3 linked regions of the Homo sapiens genome follow. The protein of the gene in region 1 binds, or shares a complex with, the protein of each later gene. Each region holds a gene or a part of one and is shown in the gene's direction. Other genes may lie near its edges. The genes, in order: AKAP17A, TTF2 and PPP1R8.

Region 1 (3,751 bases):
GATTTCTGTTCTGATTATCTGACCCTGGATATCCAGTTTGGGGACTTGTGACATATTTGGGACGTCAGAAGCACGTACCTCTCACATAGAGCATGGCATACTTAATAAACAATAAATTATAATAAAAAATGAATAATGCATTATAAATTATCATTACTTATTTATTTATTTATTGGAGACAGAGTCTCGCTCTGTTGCCCAGGATGGAGTGCAGTGGCGCCATCTTCGCTCACTGCAACCTCTGCCTCCTGGGTTCAAGTGATTCTCGGGCCTGCCTCAGCCTCCTGAGTAGCTGGGACTATAGGCAACCACCTCCACACCCGGCTAGTTTTTTGTCTTTTTAGTAGAGACGGGGTTTCACCATGCTGGCCAGGCTGGTCTTTTTTTTGTTTTGTTTTGACATGGAGTCTCGCTCTGTCAACCAGGCTGGAGTGCAGTGGCACGGTCTCACTGCAAGCCCCACCTCCCAGGTTCACGCCATTCTCCTGCCACAGCCTCCCGAGTAGCTGGTAGCTGGGACTACAGGTGCCCACCACCACGCCCGGCTGATTATTTTTTGTATTTTAGTAAAGACGGGGTTTCATCGTGTTAGCCAGGATGGTCTCGATCTCCTGACCTCATCATCCGCACATCTCGGCCTCCCAAAGTGCTGGGATTACAGGCATGAGCCACCGGGCCCGGCCCCAGGCTGGTCTTGAACTCCTGACCTTGTGATCTGCCCGCCTTGGCCCTCCAAAGTGCTGGCATTACAGACGTGAGCCACCGCACCTGGCCTCATTTATTATTTTGTAATCACATTATAAATTGTCATTTATTATTTCATAATTACATTATAAATGATCATTTCAGAATTACATTATATATTTTCATTTATTTCATAATTACACTATAGATTATCATTTATTATTCCAAAATTACATTATAAATTATGATTATATTATACAATAGCATTTGCTTCATAATTACATTAGATTATCATTTATTTTTAAATTACATTATATTTATTTCATAATTACATTATAAATTATCTTATAATTAGAAATGATCATTTATTTCATAATTGCAATATAAATTATTATTAATTTCATAATACCATTGTAAGTTATCATTTATTATTTCATAATTACATTATGTAATGGTATGCGTTAATAATTATTAATATACAATTAATAATTATTAACCATTCAATTAATAGTTAATTAACTAGCAATTTATATGTAATTCTATAATTACGTCATAGAATATGATATCTAATTTATACATAAATTATATTATTCAAGTATATTACCCATAATTTGCAAGTATAGTATAGAATCCCGTTATAGGATCCTATTACATTTTAGAATTTTGTTATATATATTTGACTCTACAATTGGAATTTAGACCCCACACCGGCCCCCCTCCTGTTTGGCTTAAGGGCTATGACCACAGACCCTGGCCCAAGTACCTCCCCTGGTTACCCGCAGGCAGGTGGCACCATGGGGGCGGGGCGGACTCGCGCACGCGCAGTGCAAAAGGTCGGGCTCCCGGAAGTCCCTCCTCCCGGGGGCGGAGCCAGGGCAAGAAGGAGAAACCCGGTGCTGCCGCGCGGCCTCTTCCGCGAGCCCGCGCGCCGGAAGTGGAAATGCGTCATAGAGGGCGGGCGGCGACGGCGGTGGCGGCGTCGGAGGCGCCTCCGGGGGACGGTGGCGGCTCCCGGCGGTGAGGCCGCGCCTGTCCGGGGATCGTCGAGGGACGGCGGGAGCTTGGGCCAGCGGCGGCGGCGGCCTGGGACGCAGGCGGAGCCCCGCGCAGGTGAGTGCCGCCCCCGTGCCTCCCGGGCCTGGCTGCAGCCGGCGAACGCTTCGCTCCTAGGGCCGGGCCCGGGGGGCCGGGGCTTGGGAGGCGGCGCCTAGGGGCCTCGGAGGTGACGGGGCTGGGGTTGGGGGGCGTGGGGTGCCACCGGGGGGCTGGGAGCGCCTGAAACTGTACGGGGGAATCGGGGGCTGGGGAGGTCTGCGGTCGGGGTCCGGGGGTCCCTGGAAGTAGGGGTAGGGGCTGGAGCGGTTCCTGGGACTGCACCGAAGGAGCTGAGGCCTGGAGCGGTGTCGGAGGGCTGGGAGCTCGGGGGATCGGATGGGCGGGAGACTAGGAGGCCTGGGACTAGGGGACGTGGCGCTGCGGTCGCTCCTAGGTCTACAGTGGGAAGCAAGGGGCTGTCCGGGGTTTTCGGAGGCTGGGGCGGTGCTGTGTAGGTTGGGGTATTGGGGCTCATCCAGGAGGGTGGTGGGGAGCGGGGAACTGAGGAGCTGAGGGTACCGAGTGGCCAAGGGCCTGAGAATGTGTGGGGCCCTGCCAGGGGTGCCAGCGGCAGCCTGAGGCCATGCTGGGGGGCTGCGGTAGGTGGGAATACCAGGGGCAATGCCGCGTACTGGGGATTGGGCAGCCAGGTGTACCGGGGTGGTCGGAGGGCGCTGGAGGCCAGAGTGGGGAGGGTTCCTCGGTGGTGAAGTTGCTGGGGCCGCTTGGGTTCTGGGGGAGGGTTCACTGGTCTCTGTCCAGACTGGAGCCCCTCCCTGGTGCCCCACTGACCTTTTCTGGTCGCTTCTCCACCCTCCCTCCCTTCTTTCGCACCTCCCACCTCGGGCTTGGGCGAGGAGGCCGTCTCCTGGGCCTGGCAGGAAGCCTCCAGGTTGATGGGGTGGGCGGCCGGGCCGGAGGCGGTCACCTGAGATGGTTGGGTTTCTGCGAGTGAAGCTTCCTCTACTTGGACTTGGCCGTCAGGAAGTGGCTGCCCGTCAGCTCAGCAGGGAAGAGGTGGGTTAATGAAGGTGGGCGGAGAAAGAAGGCGCAGACGGGGGACTCCGGCCCCTAACTTGTGGAAAGTTCGTTGTACTTTTTGGCTTTGAGTGGGTTAAAGCTGGGATACGTTTGGCCTTCGTGGAGATTACTAGGGTTCATGGTTCTGGATTGTTGTTGCAGCCCGAGACTTCCTGTTTTATCAGGGCAAGTACAGGGCCGCCGCCCCCTCCACAAAACCTTTCCAGATGCCTGCAGCTGTGCTCTCCCTGGCCCCTTCCCTTCCCCAGTGTCTCTCTGCCCCTTCCCGTGGAGCTAGGCGTTTGTAGCGTCCCCGTTCCTACTTGACCTGTGTGAGGGGCCTGGTCGTGCTCAGCTTCCTATTCTGCAGGCCTTGGGAGCTGCTGGCTGCTGGATGTAGGGTGTCGGGCAGTGCTGACCGAGGCTTTGACACTAACCTGTTCTTTATCAGCTCGGCTCTTTCCCCTTTGGTGTACTCTTAATGATTTCAAAAAGTAAAGAACTCCGTTGAGATGGCTGTTAACAAAGTGGAAACCGGTCTCTGACACGGCAGAGAGACACTGCTGTTTCTCTTCTCCGGGTCCAGAAAGTGCCTGCTGGCTTGGCCCCTCCTCATTGGCGGGGGAGGTGGGGGGTGCTGGTGCTGACTGTCTGCGTCTTATGTTTCAGGCCCAAGGTCCCGGAGGCTATGGCAGCGGCTACCATCGTGCACGACACGTCTGAGGCCGTGGAGCTCTGCCCTGCTTACGGCTTGTACCTGAAGCCCATCACCAAGATGACCATCAGCGTGGCACTCCCGCAGCTGAAGCAGCCGGGGAAGTCCATCTCCAACTGGGAGGTGATGGAGAGGCTGAAGGGCATGGTGCAGAACCACCAGTTCTCCACGCTGCGTATTTCCAAGAGCACCATGGACTTCATCCGCTTCGAGGGGGAGGTGGAGAACAAGAGCCTG
Region 2 (3,751 bases), on another chromosome or scaffold:
TATGTATAGTAAGATACACAAGTCTTAAGATTTCAACCAGTTGAGTTTTGAGAATGCATGTACCTGCTCATAAAACCAAGATCCGAGTCAAAATATTACCCCAATAAGTGCCATCAGTCCCCTTCAAGTTAATTTCACCCCTCCCATCTCCACCCCTGTCAGCAATCACTGTTCTGATTTTTATCTCTTTAGATGTGTTTTGATTGTTCTTGAACGTTATATAAATGAAATCCTACTGCATGTACTCTTCTGTGTCTGACTTCTTTTACTTAACAGTATGTGAAATGTATATAATATGTATCAGTAATTCATTCATTTTTATTGTGGAGTTGAATTTCATTTATAAATGCACCACTTTGTTTGGTGTGCCTATTTGCCATCAGAAAATCTCGACGTTATCTGTTTAAATATTTTATCCTTTTTTTTGCATTGAAATTTTTATCAAGTAGTTTTAGATTCACATACAGTTGTAAGGAATAATACAGAGTTATCCCCTGTAGACTTTATCCAGTTTCCCCCAATGGTAACGTTTGCAAGGCTTAGAAATATATCACAAACAGGATATTAATATTGGTACAACCCACCAGTTTTATTGGTAAAGGTAGTTTTACTTGAACTAATTTATGTGTGTGTGTATATTCTATACAATTTTATCCTGTCGAGTCATGTATCTACCACTACAGTCAAGGTACTGAAGAGTTCCATCACAGGATCTCTCTGTTGCCCTTTCTATAACCATACCCCCTTCCCTCCCTTCTGCCCTCTTCACTCCGGCAATCAGGAATTTGCTTTTCATTTCTAAAATTTTGTCATTGCACAATTGTTACATAAGTGGAATCATAAAGTATAACTTTGGAGATCTTTGCCTGTTTTAAAATTTTTGTCTTTTTTTAAAACTGAGTTGGTAGAGTTCTTTGTAAATTCTCTATACAAGTTAGGCCAGGCATGGTGGCTCATGCCTGTAATCCCAGCACTTTGGGAGGCTGAAGTGGGCAGATCACTTGAGATTAGGAGTTTGAGACCAGCCTGGCCAACCAACATGGTGAAACCCCATCTCTACTAAATAAAAAAAAGTGAAAAAACAAAAAAAAATTAGCTGGGCCTGGTGGCACACTCCTGAAGTCTCAGCTACTCGGGAGGCTCATCATTTTTGTATGGTTTGTGCTTTTTGTCTGATCTCCAAGAAATCTTTGCCTACCCCAATATCACAAATATTTCCAAGAATTGTCTAGAAGCTTTATAGTTTTATTTTTGTTTGTTTGTTTGTTTGTTTTTGAGAGAGAGAGTTTCACTCTGTCTTCCAGGCTGGAGTGCCGTGGTACAATCTTGGCTCACTGCAACCACCATCTCCTGGGTTCAAGCAATTCTTATGCCTCAGCCTCCCAAGTAGTCCCAAGTAGCTGGGACTACAGGTGTGCACCAATAATTTTTTTGTATTTTAGTAGAAACGGAGTTTCACCATGTTGCCCAGGCTGGTCCCGAACTCCTGAGCTCAGGCAATCTACACATCTTGGCCTCCCAAGGTGCTAGGATTACAGGTGTGAGCTACTGCACCTGGCCTGTTTTTTTTTTTTCTTCTTCTTTTTTTTTTTAGTAGCTTTTTCATATAGGTCTATTATCTATATCTTAAATTACTTTTGTGTAGTATATCAGGTAGGGTAGAGGTTCATTTATTTTTGCATATGTTACCAATTGTTTTAGCATCATGTTTTGAAGATTTTCCTTTTCCCATTGAAATGCTTGGCGTCTTTGTAAAAATTCAATTGATCCAATATATGTAAGTCTATTTCTGGGGTTGCTAATCTGTTCCATTGATCCATTTGCCTATCTTTACATAATTAATCAGATAAAATAGTGTGAGTCTTCTGACTTTATTCTTTTTCAAGATTGCGTTGGCTGCTCTAGGATCTTTGCATTTCCATATAAAATGTAGAATCAGCTTTTAAAAATTTCCACAGAAAACCCTGTTGGGATTGCATTGAATCTATATAGATCAATTTGGAGAGAATTGTCAATATTGAGGCTTCCAATCCATGAATGTAGTGCATTTATTTATGACTTTAAAAATGTCAGCTGGGCGCGGCAATCCTAGCACTTTGGGAGGCCAAGGCGGGCGGATCACGAGGTCAGGAGATCGAGACCATCATGGCTAACAAGGTGAAACCCCATCTCTACTAAAAATACTAAAAATTAGCCGGGCATGGTGGAAGGCGCCTGTAGTCCCAGCTACTCAGGAGGCTGAGGCAGGAGAATGGCGTGAACCCGGAGGCAGAGCTTACAGTGAGCCGGGATCGCGCCACCGCACTCCAGCTTGGGTGACAGAGCGAGACTCTGTCTCAAAAAAAAAATGTCTCTGAGCATTGTTTAATACTTTTCATTACAGAGTTCCTATGCATCTTTTGTTAAATTTATTTCTCAGTGTTTGTGTTTTTTAGTGCTGTTGTAAATGGAATTTTTTTTAATTTTGTTTTTGGATTGTTTTCTGCTGGTATAGTAGGGCTGGTAAGCCTTTATTGCATGAAGTTATATTCTACTGATACTTAAAACCATTTACATACTACTGGAGGACCTTTACCATACAGACATACTGTGGTAGTTGTTAGGAAGCCACTGAAGGATTTTTGACCCAATTTGCATTAAAAGAAGAACTATGGAGGACAGATTAGAAAGTGAAAATAGGGCAAAGAGACCACTGAAATAATAGCTACCATTGAAAGCCCACTATATACCTTTTTTTTTTTTTTTTTTTTTTTTTTTTTGTAGAGACACGGTCTCACTGTATTACCCAGCCTGGTCTCAATCTCCTGGGCTCAAGCAATCCTCCTACCTCAGCCTCCCAAAGTACTGGGATTACAGGTGTGGGCCACTGCACCCAGCCTGTTCATTATCTTTTACCTTCATATAATTTGTTGTGATAGATTTCAATATCCGTGTTTACCAGAAAGATGGAGAAACTACCATTGAAACAGGTCAGAAAGGGAATCTGAGGACCCATGGTTATGAAGTGGCATTGCTGGGATTTAAACCCAGGTCCAACTGATTCCAGACACACCAACTTTCTCTTAAGTGAGAGGTGATGGGCCTGAATTGAAGTAGCAGCAGTGGAATTGGGTCCAAGTAGAATGAAAACTTGCTGAAAGAGCACTGATGAGATGTATTTCCTGGTAGGGCATATAAACGTGTTCCTTCCTCCATTTTTTCATCTGGAATATTGCTCACATGGCCCTAACTTCCCTGGGTTGGAGGACTTGGAGAGAGAACGTGTGTGATGGCCTCGGTCTGGTGTTTGGCACATTGTCAGTGCTCAGTAGGGAAACGGTTGCTAAGGTGGGGCTTCTGGGTAATGTGTTTACGTTAAGCAGGACAAGGAAGAAAGGTAATGTTGGTCGAGTATTGGGATGTGTGGCAAACACATACAGCTTTGGACTAATCATGTCTTTTTTTTTTTTTTTTTTTTTTTAAAAGACAGAGTCTTGCTCTGTCAACCAGGCTGGAGTACAGTGGCACAATCTCAGCTCACTGCGACCTCTGCCTCCCAGGTTCAGGTGATTCTCGTGTCTCAGCCTCCCGAGTAGCTGGGATTACAGGTGTGTGTCACGACGCCCAGCTAATTTTTGTATTTTTAGTAGACATGGGCTTTTGCCATGTTGGCCAGGCTGGTCTCAAACTCCTAGCCTCAAGTGGTCTGCCTGCCTCAGCCTCCCAGAGTACTGGGATTACAGGCATGAGCCACCTCACCTGGCCAAATTGT
Region 3 (3,751 bases), on another chromosome or scaffold:
ATTTAGGTTCAAGGCCCCATTATTGAATGCAGTTTTTTCATTGTGGTTTTTTGGTATTTAATAAAAATGTTGCAGTTCCACGGTTGCTAGATTGAAAAGCTATCTGAGATCTTTTGAAGGTTACTCTGTAAATATATTGTTGTCACTTTTGAGATGTTGTAGAGATAACCAGGTATTTTGCAAAGTATTAAGGCATGCACGAGTTTTAATGATTTCTCCTGTTATGAATACATCATGGACTCAGCCAGTCACAGAGAGCCCCTTTGTCATGGGTTCTTCTCTCTTAAAGATTTAAAACCTCAAGATTATTCAAAGAAATAATTTAGCTAAAATATCTGTAAAACCTTTTTTGCTATAGATTGTTCCACAGTTACAAAATATTTGTTGCTGAATAGCACAAAGCTTGAAGACATATAGGGATCTGTTTTATTACTAGAATTTAGCAAATCTTTAGTTTGCAACAGGAAGAAACAGACAGGGTTGCCTAGTCTTAATGATAACATCACATTCCTTTGTGGAATAATTGGTATTACATTTTCAAAACACTCTAACTTGCCAGACACTCCTCTGATCATTGGTGTCTATTAGCTGATAACGTTCTCTTTCGATGTTGTTAAGTGTGCTGAGTTGCCACAAAGTTGTCAAGTTACAATCCTTAGACATCACTGTATTCTTGAGAGGCGTAGACCTGAGATGTGCTTATTTTTAGATTTAAACTTGATCAGCACTTGATACTAACCGAGCTGTCTATATCCTAGCCTTGTGTCAAAGGCTTGTGATGTGTTGTGATAGCTGGGTTTAAGAAGTGCAATATTAAAACAAAAGCCATGAGTCTTTTAAGCCCAGTGTGTAAAGATACACTCTGAGTTATAACTCAGAGGCACAACTGGATAGCAGTACTGGCCATAGCTAGTCAAGAAGCTACGGCTTTAGTGACTGTTGAAAGCCAGTGCATTATTTCATTCACTTGGACAGAAGCAGCACATTGTTCAACATCTAACACATTTCCTTGGTTCTAAGACATACTGTTTTCTGTTAAAATTCCATACATTTTGGCCAGGTGCGGTGGCGGCTCACACCTGGCCTCCCAGCACTTTGGGAGGCCGAGGCGGGCAGATCACCTGAGGTCAGGAGTTCAAGACCAGGCTGGCCAGCATGGCAAAACCCCGTCTCTACTAAAAGTAAAAAAATTAGCCAGGTGCAGTGGCACACCCCTATAATCCCAGCTACTTGGGAGGCTGAGGCAGGAGAATCGCTTGAACCCAGGAGGCAGAGTTTGCAGTGAGTGGAGATTGCACCACTGCACTGCAGCCTAGGCAACAAAGCAAGACTCCATCTCAAAAAAAAAATTCATTCATTTTAACATTTCTGTAATTGGGGTGCCTTTAATACTGAATGTGTACATTTAATTTGGAGGCACTCTTTTTTTTTCCTCTCAAAGAAATCCCTAAATCTCTAGTATGTCTTTTGGCACCCTAGATTCATAGAAATTTAGTCATTGTTATTTTAGAACCCAAGAGCTGGTGGTCTTTCATGTTCCTTCAGCACAATCTGTGAGCACTGTGGTTAGCAAATTTAAGTTTGTGACAGCATAATCCATGTGCATATAAATATGAATGAGAAGTGCAATGAGATTCAGCCCAAATAACTATTACCTAGAGAGAACAAGTTGTTGAAATTTCTGGGCTCTCTCTTAATCCTGAAATAATGTCTTATTTTTAACTCAAGTCTTAAAAACCTTGGGTCAAAGCAGACATGAAGGTGACTGACTGAGCTGTCAGGCTGTTGTTGAATCTTGGTTCTCCATAGTAGTGTGGGCCCAGAACAAGCTCTTCCAGCAGCAGATGGGCACTGCCAGATAGGGTTTCCCAGAGGTGACCCACATATCCAAGCTAGCCTGAATTAATTGAACCTTAAGGCTGAGCTTGAAAGAAACTGGCTAAGTGATTGTTTAAGGAAAAGAGTGTGACCCACAGTACTTATTCTCTCCTTAAAATATTCCTTGCCATATGGTGCATTTTTTGATGTAAGTAGAATGAAGAAAATATATAATGTGGTTAAAACAGCTTAGACTCTGAAGCCAGACAAATCTGAATTTCTAACCCGGCCCACAAGTATCTAACTGTGTGAACTTGAGTATGTTAATTTCTTTATGCCTCAATTTTGTCATTTATAAAAATAGGAAGAGAATAGTATTACCCACCTCATAGGGTGGTTGTGAGGATGAAATGATATAATGTAAAACTCATAGCATAGTGTGTGGCATAGAAGCGCCTAGCAGTTGTTACTGTAATCAGTGCTGAAATTGTGCTTGCATGAGGTGTATCTTTTGGTTTTGTAAGGGGATAATAGCAGCCCATTGTGAGTTAAAGGACTTAGCCAGGAATGAAATATAAGCTTCTTGATTCCCAGCCGGGTACTAACTTGACTATACTCTACTCAGCTTTATGCTATATTTTCTCAGGGATTTTAGGACTATAGTGTGAAATGTGAACTAGCGTTTAATGAGACCTCATGTTTAAAGGAAAAACACAACATACCCAAATGAGAGTTATTCCTCAAGTGCTCCCACTGGATTACTAGACCACTAGCACTGGAAGAAGCTTTAGCAATAATTCATCTAGAGTCCTTCATCTATAACAGTCCAGTTTATAACCGATCTGTGGCAAAGGCTTTACTGATCCAGGATTAAAAGAAATATAAGGACAGGTATAGCAAGTTTTTTATTTTTATTTTTTTGTTTGTTTTTGTTTTCGAGATAGAGTCTTGCTCTGTCGCCCAGGCTGGAGTGCAGTGGCCGATCTCGGCTCACTGCAAGCTCTGCCTCCCGGGCTCATGCCATTCTCCTGCCTCAGCCTCCCGAGTAGCTGGGACTACAGGCACCTGCCACCACGCCCGGCTAATTTTTTTTTTGTATTTTTAGTAGAGACGGGGTTTCACTGTGTTAGCCAGGATGGTTTTGATCTCCTGACCTTGTGATCCGCCTGCCTCGGCCTCCCAAAGTGCTGGGATTACAGGTTTGAGCCACCGCACCCGGCCAGCAAGTTTTTTATAAAGCTAAATTTAGCTCAGGTCTAGCACGGTGGCTAACACCGGTAATCCCAGCACTTTGGGAGGTTGAGGCTGGCCATTCACCTGAGGTGAGGAGTTCGAGACCAGCCTGGGCAACATGGTGAAACTTGTTTGTTTTGAGACTGTCTCAAAAACAAACAAAAATACTTTGGGACTATGGCAGCATGATTAGAATAGAAATAGGTGTTTACACTTCATTCCTTTCCCAAATATACATTTGAATGTTTATTTTCTGAGAAGCAATCTTATTACAATTTTTTTCGGTTTCACTAGGCTAAAAGCAATCTTGTTACCTTATAGACATGCATTGTGCTTCTTGTTTCCTAATTGATCTAAAATTAAGATCCAACAGAACCTTTTTTCAGAAGACAGCCACTCTTCATACAATTGTTGATCTCAGGCCAGGCACGGTGGCTCACCCCTGTAATCCCAGCACTTTGGGAGTCTGAGGCGGGTGGATCATGAGGTCAGGAGATCAAGACCATCCTGGCTAACACGGTGAAACCCTGTCTCTTCTAAAAATACAAAAAATTAGCTGGGCGTGGTGGCACACGCCTGTAGTCCCAGCTACTCGGGAGGCTGAGGCAGGAGAATGGTGTGAACCCGGGAGGCAGAGCTTGTAGTGAGCCGAGATCACGCCACTGCACTCCAGCCTGGGTGACAGAGACTCGTCTCAAAA

What was found.
Region 2: AKAP17A (region 1) and TTF2 share a complex: the UniProt entries of both Homo sapiens proteins name them as parts of the spliceosome.
Region 3: AKAP17A (region 1) and PPP1R8 share a complex: the UniProt entries of both Homo sapiens proteins name them as parts of the spliceosome.

What each region holds. Positions count from the first base shown.
Region 1 is NC_000023.11:1,589,976-1,593,726, forward strand, and holds the start of AKAP17A (A-kinase anchor protein 17A), read left to right. Parts: upstream 1-1,628; 5' UTR 1,629-1,794; intron 1,795-3,468; 5' UTR 3,469-3,487; coding exon 3,488-3,751. UniProt on the Homo sapiens protein: Splice factor regulating alternative splice site selection for certain mRNA precursors. Mediates regulation of pre-mRNA splicing in a PKA-dependent manner.
Region 2 is NC_000001.11:117,063,259-117,067,009, forward strand, and holds part of TTF2 (transcription termination factor 2), read left to right. Parts: intron 1-3,751. UniProt on the Homo sapiens protein: DsDNA-dependent ATPase which acts as a transcription termination factor by coupling ATP hydrolysis with removal of RNA polymerase II from the DNA template. May contribute to mitotic transcription repression. May also be involved in pre-mRNA splicing.
Region 3 is NC_000001.11:27,833,679-27,837,429, forward strand, and holds part of PPP1R8 (nuclear inhibitor of protein phosphatase 1), read left to right. Parts: intron 1-722; exon of another isoform or gene 723-888; intron 889-3,751. UniProt on the Homo sapiens protein: Inhibitor subunit of the major nuclear protein phosphatase-1 (PP-1). It has RNA-binding activity but does not cleave RNA and may target PP-1 to RNA-associated substrates. May also be involved in pre-mRNA splicing.